3 separate regions of the Homo sapiens genome follow, and all the other regions are linked to region 1. Evidence: fine-mapped expression QTL. A gene starts in region 1. Each other region holds a variant in brackets. All regions are shown on one strand. Distances are between the middles of the regions.

Region 1 (4,242 bases):
GTCAGCATTTATACACATCACAGTACATCTTCACTTATCAAAAAATAATTCATATCACATTCAATGTAAAGTCATCAGTAAAATTCGCCCTGTCAAAATGCTACCTTAAGAAAAATGAGTTTCTTCACTAACATGAAAAACTGAAACTAGCAACACATTCTTTCAATGAATTGTTTCTAAATTTTGATTCTCAAAGAATGTTGAAACTTTGATTAAAGAAAAAGGGTGTGTGTGTGTGTGTGTGTGTGTGTGTGTGTGTGATTGCAATTTACCCATTTGGGCTAAGACTAAATGGCACAAAGTGTAATGTAGGGCAAAGATTGGAAAACTTTTTCTCTAAAATGCCAGATAATAAATATTTTTGGCTTTAAGGGCACACAGTCTCCATCCAATTGCCTTTGGAGTAGAAAAGCAGCCACAAGCAATATGTAAACAAACGAGCATGACTGTGTTCCAATAAAACTTTATGAACACTGAAAATTAAAAATTGAAAAATCTGAAGACCATTCTTAGCCTGTGGGCCTGAAAAAAACAGTAGCAGGCTTGATTTAGCCCATGGGCCGTAGTTTACTAACCCCTGCTCCATGGAACTACATTAAATAAGAAAAACATTCAACACTATCACAAGCTAAATTCTTAGCTCTGCCACTGTTTTTCCTGGGAGACCTTGGACAAATTATTTAACCTGCCTCAGGTTTCTCATCTGTAAAATGGAGTTAATAACATTAGGAGCCTCAGTGGGTTACTCTGAACATGAACTGTAGTAATACATTTTGAAAATGATACCAACTGCACATAGTAAGTGTTCAATAAAAGTTACCTGTTAATACACATTACGATTCTAGAGTTAACTCCTTTTTACTTCAGTGAAAACATTAGAAAAGTAGTTCTTTTGTGTTTAAATTTTTAAAATTGTCTTAAAGTGCCTAGATGTTGTCTTCTCAAAGGAAGAAACTAGATTTGCCCAAAGAGGTCAAGCACATTTGGAAAGGGGCAAACGCACAAGGAAGCCTGCTTTGCAAAATCTGCCTAAAAGGCTAGCTCCATCTGAACAGACACCTACCCGGTTTCTGTCTTCAATTGTCAACAGTTCCTCCTCCATGCACTTATCCAAGACGTCTCTAACTAGAAGCTTGTCCACCAGAGTGGGCTGAAGGAGGTTCAGCAGTTGGAGATATTCATCATGAGCGTTCTCAAACGATGGAGAGGGCAAGTCCGTGAGCTCAGGGTTCATGTAGCGGGCGGCCAGAGGGCTGCCGGTTCTCCGGAGGGCCTCCACGAATTCCCGAGTCCAACCAAGGTGCCAGACTCCCTTCTCCAAGGTGCTCAGCAGCAGTTCAACTGCCTGCATGTTCCCGGAGGTGGCGACTGTCCTCTGAATCTGCTCCTTCACCTCTGCAGGCAGAAAGGTCAGGTAGTCCAGCACAGGCTCCACCTGGATGTACATTTTCACCCTGGCCCTGAAGCACGAGATGAGATAGCGGAAATTCTCGTCTGTGGAATACCCATTCGACATCTTTCTTTCTCAGAGAAGGGAGAGGGTTCTCCCAAGCAGATGGTGCTGTTGTCTGCGGGACAGGTGAAATGTGCGTGCCGCTGTCCGCTGCCCACTTAGAGAAGCAGGGTCTACCGCTCTGTGCCTGACAATGACGAGGTTGTCCACAGGGCTCTCAGGCCGGCGCGCGGGGCTGCACTCGCACCTGGGCAGGTGGGCAGGCGGGCAGGTGGGCAGCGGGGCGGCGCGCGGGGCCGCGGCAGGCAGGTGCGGCCGGCAGGCGCGGCACTTTGGACTCTGCGGTGTGCGCCTGGGGTCCCGGACCGGGGCGATCCTGCTGCACACTCGGGTAGGAGCTTTGAGTCCAGCTTTCTGTCAGGCAGTTCTTACAGAGTTTGCCTGACTTTGGTTTCTGTTTCGATTCTCTTCTCAGGACTTTGTAAACGTAATCTGCCTGGCGGGGAGGGAGTTTCCTCAGGGAGACGCCACCTTTTGGTCGGGGCGGGTGAAGAGAGGAGGCCTTTGGTTAAGGACACCGCGGGAAACAGAAAAGGAAAGCGAATTCTCTCTGACACCAAGACCAACGCTCTAGCAAAGCTCCTCCGGCGGATATTTTGTTTTCCCAGCAGGTTCTGCCTTAACAATAAGGTCCTTTGTAGGCCAAAATGTGCAGGGCATAAAAGCATGTGATTTGGGACTTTCCAAAGGGGAAGTGAACAGAAACTGCCACAGACCCGGACGTGAACAGGGAGTTACCCTCGGCTGGTGAATGTAGGCAGGCCTGGCTGAGGGTGGTGAGACTGCGAGGGACAGGTGAGAGATGAAGCTCAGAAGACATCTTTGCAGAGATGTGGAGAAGACAGGAGGAAGTCCTTCCTAAAATAAACCTGACCTCCTGTGGGTTCCCAAACACTAACTTGTTTCCCTGGGAATTTGGAGGTGGGTTCGAAAAAGTGAGTAACAATAAACAGTTAACTTTACTGCCTCATATTTAGATTGCTGGTATTTATGCAGCTTTGACCAGGACCTGGTAACAGATGTGGATGGACTTGAACCACCAACTCAGCTTAGAAGGAAGCCAAGACTTAAAGTTTCCTAGATCCCAGCTTGTAAGTTCCCTATATTCTTTAATATACAACTTTCCTTTAATAAAACAAAACAAAAAAATCCCCCAACAACTTATTTTTGATATAGCTGCCATTCTTTTCTTGGATTCAATACAGCAAGTTTTGGCTGGAGCAGCTAGGAACTTAATTAGCAACTAATGTACCAACTTGTAGTAAACATCAACATTTGTCTATGTCATGAGAGAAAAAAAACATATTCACACTGAAAAATGGCAGCTTCATTTTGGTACAGAAGCCACATAAATGTGAGTCCTTAAGGTTACTACTCATTCTGAAGGCATTCTGTAGCCACATGTGACTGTGGGTGGTAGGCACATACGCACCATAACTAGAATCTCATGGTCCAGAATTATATAAAGGATGGAGAGATCATTTAGGTTATCAAAGAGACATATTTAGGAAAAATAATCTGTTAGCAAAGTACATTCAATAAAGTCTGTGTAGGCCAGGAAAACCTGATAGTGCTTTGAACAGGATAATAGAAGTACAGAGTCTTGGTGAGTGTTTACTAGGGGCATACAAAATATCCAAATGAGCACTTTATGGTAACATGTCTTATTTTATTCTCTAATTATCTTATGTAGCAAGGCTTTTTCTACCCCTGAAGGATTGTAAGCTGCTTGAAGAAGGGATATATTTACATAGTAACTAGTACACTACTCACAACTGGTGGGCTCTTGATGACATCTCTCCTGGGAGTTGTATTTGAGTTGACCATAGCAGCTGGCATAATGTTAAATACACTGAAAGTTGAAGTAAATGAAACCTTGGGCTTGCAGGTAGGCCTGATTTATACTGTTCTTTTCTGTTTCTTCACAGAACCCTACTCCTTTTTCACTTAATTTTGGGAGATGACCTTGTACCCAGATAGAGGATAATCCAATTAGATGTTTCTACAAAAGCACTCAAATTATTAATTTTAAGTATTGGGTCTATGAAAATATCTTTTAAGGCTGTTGCAAAAACATACTCCTATCCCCCAGCTGCCAGTGGGTTTTATTCAACATGTTAAAGCACAAACTAACAAACCAAAAAACATTCTTTTTCCTGGCACTTATCCTTCTGTTTCTTGGTTTCAAACATGGGGGAATGAGAAGGGGTTGCTGACTGAATATGGGGAACCAGTTAATGTTATTTTCTTCATACCACTTAATTGTTGCTCTGGAAGAGAAAGGATCAAATGTTTGGTATTTGACCTGTTCTCAAATAATAAACATTTAAACCAAAGATATTTAAATATTTGGCATTCAAATTATATCATTCATTGTATCATCTAGTCATTTAAAATATGTTTATTAAGTATCTATTACATGACCAGCACTGATCTAGGTGCAGTTAATAAAATTAACAAAGCTCCTACTTTTATGGAGTTCACATTCTAATGGGAGTGGGAAGATAGATGGTAAGTAATGACTAAAAAATATGCAATGTGCAGGTGAGGATAAATGCCCTGAAGACCATAGTAAATCTACATAATAATGTATATTACAGTTTCACAGGTTGATTTCCCAAATAGTCATCCTCCTCTAACCCTATTAGCATCACATAATACCCAACAATAACAATTCATATTTTCTCACAAGTAGGAGTCTCTCTGCTGGATGAGGTCTGAGTGATGAG
Region 2 (4,242 bases), 150 kb after region 1:
TATGATCTAATTTCCAGGTTGTTACCTCAAATTATGCAAGGTTATCAACAAAATATCTTGGCAGAAGAATTTAATTTTCTTTTACTATTTCTATATCTTGGGCAAGGTATTTATTCTTTTCCTTTTTTTTTTTTTTTTTTTTTTTTTTCAGACGGAGTCTCAGTCTGTTGCCCAGGATGGAGTGCAGTGGTGTGATCTCAGCTCACTGCAACCTCCGCCTCCCAGGCTCAAGCGATTCTCCTGCCTCAGCCTTCCAAATAGCTGGGACTACAGGTACGTGCCACCATGCCTGACTAATTTTTTGTATTTTTAGTAGAGATAGAATTTCATTGTGTTAGCCAGGATGGCCTCAATCTCCTGACCTCCCAGGATGGTCTCGATCTACTGACCTCATGATCCGCCCGCCTAGGCCTCCCAAAGTGCTGGGATTACAGGCGTGAGCCACTGCACCCAGCCTCTTTCCCTTTTTTTTTTTTTAAAGAAAGGAGCTTGCTCTGTTGACCAGGCTGACGTGCAGTGGCATAATCATAGTTCACTGTAACCTCGAACTTCCAGGCCCAGGTGACCCTCCCTCCTCAGCTTCCCAAGTAGCTAGGACTACAGGTGCATACCACCACATCTGCCTAATTTTTTAATTTTTATTTTGTAGAAGCAGGAATCTTGCTATGTTGCACAGGCTGGTCTCAAACAATTCTCCTGCTTTAGTCTCCCAAAGTTTTGGGATTATAGGTGTGAGCAACTGTGCTTTGCCTTCATTCTTTGTTATAGTACATTTGAAAAGTTAAGGTGGTATGTAATAGCTAAATACTGTTATGAAATTTTATGCTATAATAAAAAGTAAAGCCTTGTCAATTCATATAAACCAACACATTTGAGAGCAAAATCATATTTTAGTACCATAGGTAACACTTCAGTAAACACCAATTGAACAACTATGCTTTTGACCCTGTACCAGAAGTACCGCCAGAGATGTCCTTGAACTCAAGATACTCTTGGGCTGACCTGAGTAGTTTGTATGCAAACCAATAATATTTACCATGTGACAAAGGAAGCAGGAGGAATTGACTACTGTGGGCCATCTAGGGATCTTTGACAACGGTACTAGTTGAGTGAATCTTAAAGGATATGTGCTTTTGGTTTTTGTTTGTTTTCAGTTGGAAATGATATGCTTTTTAGAAGAGTACGTTCCACTATCAAAGCCCGGTGGGGTGAGAGCTGTGGTCCTCGAGCCTTTTTTATGCATAAGGACTACCCAGAAAGCTTATTAAAAGGTAGATTTGCCCTCTCCCTCCCCCTCCCCCTCTCCCTCTCCCTCTCCCCACGGTCTCCCTCTCCTTCTCTTTCCATGGTCTCCCTCTGATGCCGAGCTGAAGCTGGACTGTGCTGCCGCCATCTCGGCTCACTGCAAACTCCCTGCCTGATTCTCCTGCCTCAGCCTACCGAGTGCCTGCGATTGCAGGCGCGCGCCGCCACGCCTGACTGGTTTTCATATTTTTTTGGTGGAGACGGGGTTTCGCTGTCTTGGCCGGGCTGGTCTCCAGCTCCTGACCGCGAGTGATCCGCCAGCCTCGGCCTCCCGAGGTGCCGGGATTGCAGACGGAGTCTCGTTCACTCAGTGCTCAATGGTGCCCAGGCTGGAGTGCAGTGGCGTGATCTCGGCTCGCTACAACCTCCATCTCCCAGCCGCCTGCCTTGGCCTCCCAAAGTGCCGAGATTGCAGCCTCTACCCGGCCGCCACCCCGTCTGGGAAGTGAGGAGTGTCTCTGCCTGGCCGCCCATCGTCTGGGATGTGAGGAGCCCCTCTGCCTGGCTGCCCAGTCTGGAAAGTGAGGAGCCTCTCTGCCCGGCCGCCATCCCATCTAGGAAGTGAGGAGCGTCTCTGCCCGCCCGCCCATCGTCTGAGATGTGGGGAGCGCCTCTGCCCTAGTGCCCTGTCTGGGATGTGAGGAGCGCCTCTGCCCGGCCGCGACCCTGTCTGGGAGGTGAGGAGCGTCTCTGCCCGGCCGCCCCGTCTGAGAAGTGAGGAGACCCTACGCCCGGCAGCCGCCCCGTCTGAGAAGTGAGGAGCCCCTCCGCCCGGCAGCCGCCCTGTCTGAGAAGTGAGGAGCCCCTCTGCCGGGCAGCCACCC[C/T]GTCTAGGAAGTGAGGAGCGTCTCCGCCCGGCAGCCACCCCGTCCGGGAGGGAGGTGGGGGTCAGCCCCCGCCAGGCCGGCCGCCCCATCCGGGAGGGAGGTGGGGGGGTCAGCCCCCCGCCCGGCCAGCCGCCCCGTCCGGGAGGTGAGGGGCGCCTCTGCCCAGCCGCCCCTACTGGGAAGTGAGGAGCTTCTCTGCTCGGCCACCACCCCGTCTGGGAGGTGTACCCAACGGCTCATTGAGAACAGGCCATGATGACAATGGTGGTTTTGTGGAATAGAGGAGGGGGAAAGGTGGGGAAAAGATTGAGAAATTGGGTGGTTGCTGTGTCTGTGTAGAAAGAAGTAGACATGGGAGACTTTTCACTTTGTTCTGTACTAAGAAAAATTCTTCTGCCTTGGGATCCTGTTGATCTCTGACCTTACCCCCAACCCTGTGCCCTCTGAAACATGTGCTGTGTCCACTCAGGGTTAAATGGATTAAGGGCGGTGCAAGATGTGCTTTGTTAAACAGATGCTTGAAGGCAGCATGCTTGTTAAGAGTCATCACCACTCCCTAATCTCAAGTACCCAGGGACACAAACACTGCGGAGGGCCGCAGGGTCCTCTGCCTAGGAAAACCAGAGACCTTTGTTCACTTGTTTATCTGCTGACCTTCCCTTCACTATTGTCCTATGACCCTGCCAAATCCCCCTCTGCGAGAAACACCCAAGAATGATCAATAAATTAAAAAAAAAAAAAAAAAGGTAGATTTCCTGCTCTTTGCCCTCTGAGACTAGGTGAAGCCCAGGAATCTGAATTTTAACAAGCATCTAAAATGAATCCGATGCACTTGGTCTCCTGTGTATATATTTGCATGTTTCTATATGTGTGCATTTGTGTGTATGTATGCTTGTGCTTGTGTGTGTGTATACACGTGTTTGAGAGCAGTCAATGAGAAAGAGCCTTGGAGATGGTGTGGGTGAAGAGGTCTGTGTGGAGCAGATTCTGTGGAGTTTTACGACCTTACAAGGGATGTGAAGGACCTCTTCAAGGAGAAATACAAACCACTGTTCAATGAAATAAAAGAGGACACAAACAAATGGAAGAACATTACATGCTCATGGATAGGAAGAATAATATCATGAAAATGGCCATACTGCCCAAGGTAATTTATAGATTCAATGCCATCCCTATTAAGCTACCAATGACTTTCTTCACAGAATTGGAAAAAACTACTTTAAAGTTCATATGGAACCAAAAAAGAGCCTGCACTGCCAAGTCAATCCTAAGCCAAAAGAACAAAACTGGAGGCATCATGCTACCTGACTTCAAACTAAACTACAAGGCTACAGTAACCAAAACAGCATGGTACTCTTACCAAAACAGAGATATAGACCAATGGAACAGAACAGAGCCCTCAGAAATAATACCACACATCTACAACCATCTGATCTTTGACAAACCTGACAAAAACAAGAAATGGAGAAAGGATTCCCTATTTAATAAATGGTGCTGGGAAAACTGGCTAGCCATATGTAGAAAGCTGAAACTGGATCCCTTCCTTACACCTTATACAAAAATTAATTCAAGATGGATTAAAGACTTAAATGTTAGACCTAAAACCATAAAAACCCTAGAAGAAAACCTAGGCAATACTATTCAGGACATACGCATGGGCAAGGACTTCATGTCTAAAACACCAAAAGCAATGGCAACAAAAGCCAAAATTGACAAATGGGATCTAATTAAACTAAAGAGCTTCTGCACAGCAAAAGAAACTACCATGAGAGTGAACAGGCAACCTACAGAATGGGAGAAAATTTTTGCAATCTACTCATCTGACAAAGGGCTAATACCCAGAATTTACAAAGAACTCAAACAAATTTACAAGAAAAAAACAAACAACCCCATCAACAAGTGGGTAAAGGATATGAACAGACACTTCACAAAAGAAGACATTTATGCAGCCAGCAGACACATGAAAAAATGCTCATCATCACTGGCCATCAGAGAAATGCAAATCAAAACCACAATGAGATACCATCTCACACCACTTAGAATGGCAATCATTAAAAAGTCAGGAAACGACAGGTGCTGGAGAGGATGTGGAGAAATAGGAACACTTTTACAC
Region 3 (4,242 bases), 44 kb before region 1:
GGAGGAATGAATGGAGAGAAGGGTCATCTCTGACCTTGACACTAGGGCTGGTGAGAAGGCAGGTCAGTTTCTGGCATCCTACATTACATTCTTAGCACATTTTCCCATGGGAACATATTTAACATGGTGATAACTTTCTACAAGCCTCTTTATGAAAGTGATATTCAGGTATATTTTGATTAATAGAAACTTCTGTGGCCTGGCCCAGGAGCCTATCAACTATAAAAGTATCCTCAAGGAAAAATGTATTCTAAGTTTGATTACTAAGCTTATCACTGACTTACAAATAGACTCCTGAAATAAAATTATTTGCTAATTTGATGGCAGTCTGGTTATCTTAGTCTTCTATGACTTGCCTTTTATTCAAGGATGCAATTTAAGTTATTTAAAAATCCCTTTAGTTAATTTTATAGGAAGAATAGTGTATCTATTAATCAGCATAACACCTATGCCTACTCAACAGGTTACAATAATGCCATTAACATAGGTGGGTAAGAGATAAAGTGAAATCTGAATGAAAACAGAACATTTCACTCTTTTATTTATTTTTACATTTATAAGTCTGCCCCCAACCAACATTTTATCATGAAAACTTCTAAACACACAGAAAATTGGAAAGGATAAGGGAAGAAAATGCAGAAACAGCAGGGCTCCCTCAGGTTTGGGCATGTTACTTCATCAGACATTTGTGGGACAGTGTACTTTAGATTCCTGGTCCAGCTGGGGGCTCACAGACATCCTAGGAAAGAGGAGGCTGCTTTTGACTCTTACAAATGGGGCTAGTGTCATGGTCCTGGAAAGCCTTAGGGTACAGAAATAGCTAAAGAGGAGTTGTTGTTTAAACATACAACAGGTATCTGGTTATTATATGAATTGACAGCAATATGAAAGGCAACAGTGCACAGCATTTTAAAAATGCTCTTTTAACAGGAAAAAGGCTTTGTTTTAAAAACTAAAAAGATGTTTTTGCTGTTTAACTAAAAGAAAGCAATTAAAATAGGAACACAACAAATAAAAATTAACATAGTAAGTAGAGGTATTTGAATGTACCTGGACCATGGCTATTTCATTGGTGACGAGACCATAACGGATAACAATGTTACATTCTTTAATATCCAGACCTTCTTCTGCCACTGTGGTAGCGATAAGCAGATTTATTTTTCCAGTGCGAAATTTACTAATGACTTCTTTTTGTTCATTCTGTAGAAACATTTTAATAAATTAAATTTTGTGATGCTAAACACATTAAAATCTTCTAATTAGAGGAAGAAATAATAAATTGCAACTGGTCAGTGTAAATCAAAGGATTAGATCATACATGGATTTGTTGCCATCTGTTTTTGGCATTGAACAAAGACATAATGGTGAGACAACATTTGATTTCCAATCTGGGATTACCACACAATAACAAAAATATTTCCATCATCCAGTCTGGAGGTGGGAAGACCACATTTTATGCCAAGGAAATAAATTGATGGGTGACTCCAGAGGAAGAAAGGAGGAGCTGTCGGTTGAGAAGAGGATATGACAATCAGAAGCTAAAATGGGCTTTTTTCCCCCACTACATTAACTTCAGAATCTTTGCTATTTAGAGGATAAGATGCAGAGATGCTTTGATATATTGTTTTCAGTCACAGAGAAAATGCACACTGTATATGCATTTGGTCACTTTAAGAATCATTTGAGTTAGAAGCTATGGAATATTCCCAAAAGGACACAAGAGAAACTGAAAACATCAGCTGCATCTAGGGAGGGGAGCTGGAAGACTAGAGGTCAGTGGTATGCCTTGTGCCTCATTAATTTTGAATGAGGTAAATATATTATCAATTCAAAGGGACAATATAAATAAAAATGAAAGAAGAGGTTATGCAACTGTAAATAAAACTATTTTCAAATGAAAAAACTCTGAATTTTGAAAGTCAATATAAATAAATTAAAATATGACCTCTCATCCTTACATGGGAGAAATGAGTGAGCACAAACCTAGCTTGATATGGACAATGTGGTTTTATTTTCATAACCACTCTCATCAAAGCTGTTGGTCCAGTTGGCATTTGGTGCACATCCACACTGTCTATTGCCCCCATACATTAAACAAAAATAAAGCTGCCAGACCAAAAGTATGTTCTTCCATCCCCTTCCCTTTCTTCTCAGAGGCAGTGTGAGTCCTTATTTGACTCCTACTCCTAACTGTCGGAGAACCCTGTAGAAAGGCCT[C/G]TCTTGAGTCTTCTCTGAAAATTTCTCCCTCCGGCCCTCACATCTCCCGATAAAAACTTACATGTTCTTGGATTTTAGCAGAAGATGCCTGTGTCTTAATTTGAAGGAGTAACTTTAATAACAAAAATTCCAGACAGTGTCAGATCTTCAAGTCACATCACATAGATGCCTAACACCATTGCTAAGGAGTTTGTCCACCCCAGTTTACAAGGTGAGGATACAAGGAGTGGGGAAGGAAGGGAATATGTTCTGTATTTTGGCACACAGCCCCTTGGTTTGAAATGAATAAGGAGCAGAAAGTAGCTTGAACATAGGCTTTTCATTTGCACTCTACCTCTTTTTACAGAGAAGCTTAGCCCTCTTACAATAAAAGTCACAACGCTAAAGTTAATATAATAGAAATTTAAAAACAGAACTCATAAGAATCAACACAGAGGCTGTGAGACTGAACTTGAGTTTTTCCTGCTAGCTTTCTGGAAGCTAAGGCAAAAAGAAAAACATATAAAGCAAACTACATCTCATCAAAAAGAAGGAAGCAAACTTGTTACCCAAGGAAAACAGTACTTTCTCTGGCATTAATTTTATTGGCAATGCTCACAGGAGTGCATGTAGAGGGTATATAAAGAGTTATAGTGAACCATTTCAAGAATTTTTTTCCAGCAAACACTGAAACAGAATTAATTTGCTCCATTGGCTTGAATAGTGATAACTATAATAGAAAGGAAGTATCCATTTGTCCAGAAAGACTCAGGGTCAATGTGATTTTAGCCCTCAGAAGAATATTTTACTCTAACAAGGCATCATTGCTTCATGCATGCTTGTAATGTCTACTAGTGCCTTTTTTTCTTACCCAAGTGTTTTTTTACTATGCCCACAGTAAGCAACATGTAAACAAAGTAAAACAAAACACCTTAAAATGGAACAGAAAACCTACTTACCAGAATCCCAAATCTCTAATATATCAAATTCTTTAGTTTTTTCAAGTTTCCCTAGAGGTCTCATTCTATGTAAATATATTTTGCATAGTTCTAGTTATAACGAACACATTTTTGTGGGAGTTTGAATTTTCCACTTGATACTACATGGCAATCATTTCTGAACTTTGTTGTTAAGCTTACATGTCACTTATTTTTGCAAGGGAAACTTAGAAAGTTCTTCCAATTATTATGTGGGAAAAATGACTCCTAAAACAACACTTAACCTCTCAAAAACCACAGATTTGATTGCTATTAGCCTTAGATTTTATTTCAAGAACAGGTGTTTTATCCTGTAAATGTATTCATGGGTGGTGAGAGGATTGGTAGAAAAAGACTAAAAACAATTTGAGAAGAGTAATAACAGCATAAGAAAAGAAGTCCAGGCTGAGCGCAGTGGCTCGTGCCTATAATCTCAATACTTTGGAAGGCAGAGGCAGAAGGATGGCTTGAGCCCAGGAGTTTAAGACAAGCCAGGACAACATAGTGGGACACCTTTTCTACAAAAAAGATAAAAAAATTAGTTGGGTGTGGTGGTGCACACCTAGAGTCCCAGCTGCTCAGGAGGCTGGGGCTGGAGGATTGCTTGAGCCTAGGAGGTCAAGGGTGCAGTGAATCTTGATCATGCCACTGCTCTTCAGCCTGAGTGACAGAGCGAGGCCTCGTCTGAAAGAAAAGAAGAAGAGAAGAAGAGAAGAGAAGAAGAAAAGAGAAAGAAAAGAAAAGAAGTCGTCCAAAAGGATATTTATACCTGTGTCATGGGTTTGAACTCACTGCTGTGTCCAGCTCCAATCAGATGGTGGGCTTTGACTCCTACTTCAGCAAATTTTTCATTTTCAGTAATCCACTGGGAAAGCGCATATGCACTCTGTCGTGTTTTTGTAAAGATTATTCCTCGTGCTGATTCCTCAGTCCTAGTATATTGCTCCATTATGGTATTTCTTAATTTGGTCAGCTTTTCATTTTCATATTCTGGGTTTTCAGCCAGCCTTTTCAACATTTTATTGTTTTCTTTAAGAAATAATTAGAGTTGATATGTTAACAAGCTTGA

Which allele goes with the higher level. Positions count from the first base shown, and alleles are read on the strand shown. Sizes are in standard deviations (SD) of each study's normalised expression.
For the expression in tibial artery of the gene that starts at base 1,893 in region 1, C is the high allele of the variant in region 2 and T is the other (moderate effect, 0.70 SD a copy in GTEx).
For the expression in whole blood of the gene that starts at base 1,893 in region 1, G is the low allele of the variant in region 3 and C is the other (moderate effect, 0.52 SD a copy in GTEx).

What was found. PIP is the estimated chance that this variant, and not a neighbour inherited with it, causes the effect.
Region 2: its variant is the best candidate, but not a certain one, in a credible set for the expression of IFIH1 in tibial artery (GTEx, PIP 0.60).
Region 3: its variant is the best candidate, but not a certain one, in a credible set for the expression of IFIH1 in whole blood (TOPMed, PIP 0.87).

The regions. Positions count from the first base shown.
Region 1 is chr2:162,316,792-162,321,033 of GRCh38, forward strand. IFIH1 (interferon induced with helicase C domain 1) reads right to left here and starts at 1,893. Exons shown (of 16, transcript NM_022168.4): 1 at 1,064-1,893. The coding sequence starts at 1,516. It also overlaps a transcript of GCA not described here. RefSeq lists a silencer at 1,688-1,777 and enhancers at 1,808-2,357, 1,926-3,125.
Region 2 is chr2:162,468,391-162,472,632 of GRCh38, forward strand. The region is part of intron 6 of KCNH7 (potassium voltage-gated channel subfamily H member 7); the gene reads right to left. Among named protein-coding and RNA genes, the nearest start is that of GCA, 130 kb to the left of the region's middle. The variant C/T (reference allele first, on the strand shown) is at 2,130.
Region 3 is chr2:162,272,745-162,276,986 of GRCh38, forward strand. It overlaps IFIH1 (interferon induced with helicase C domain 1), which reads right to left. Exons shown (of 16, transcript NM_022168.4): 11 at 3,943-4,202; 12 at 1,051-1,200. Among named protein-coding and RNA genes, the nearest start is that of FAP, 31 kb to the left of the region's middle. The variant C/G (reference allele first, on the strand shown) is at 2,218.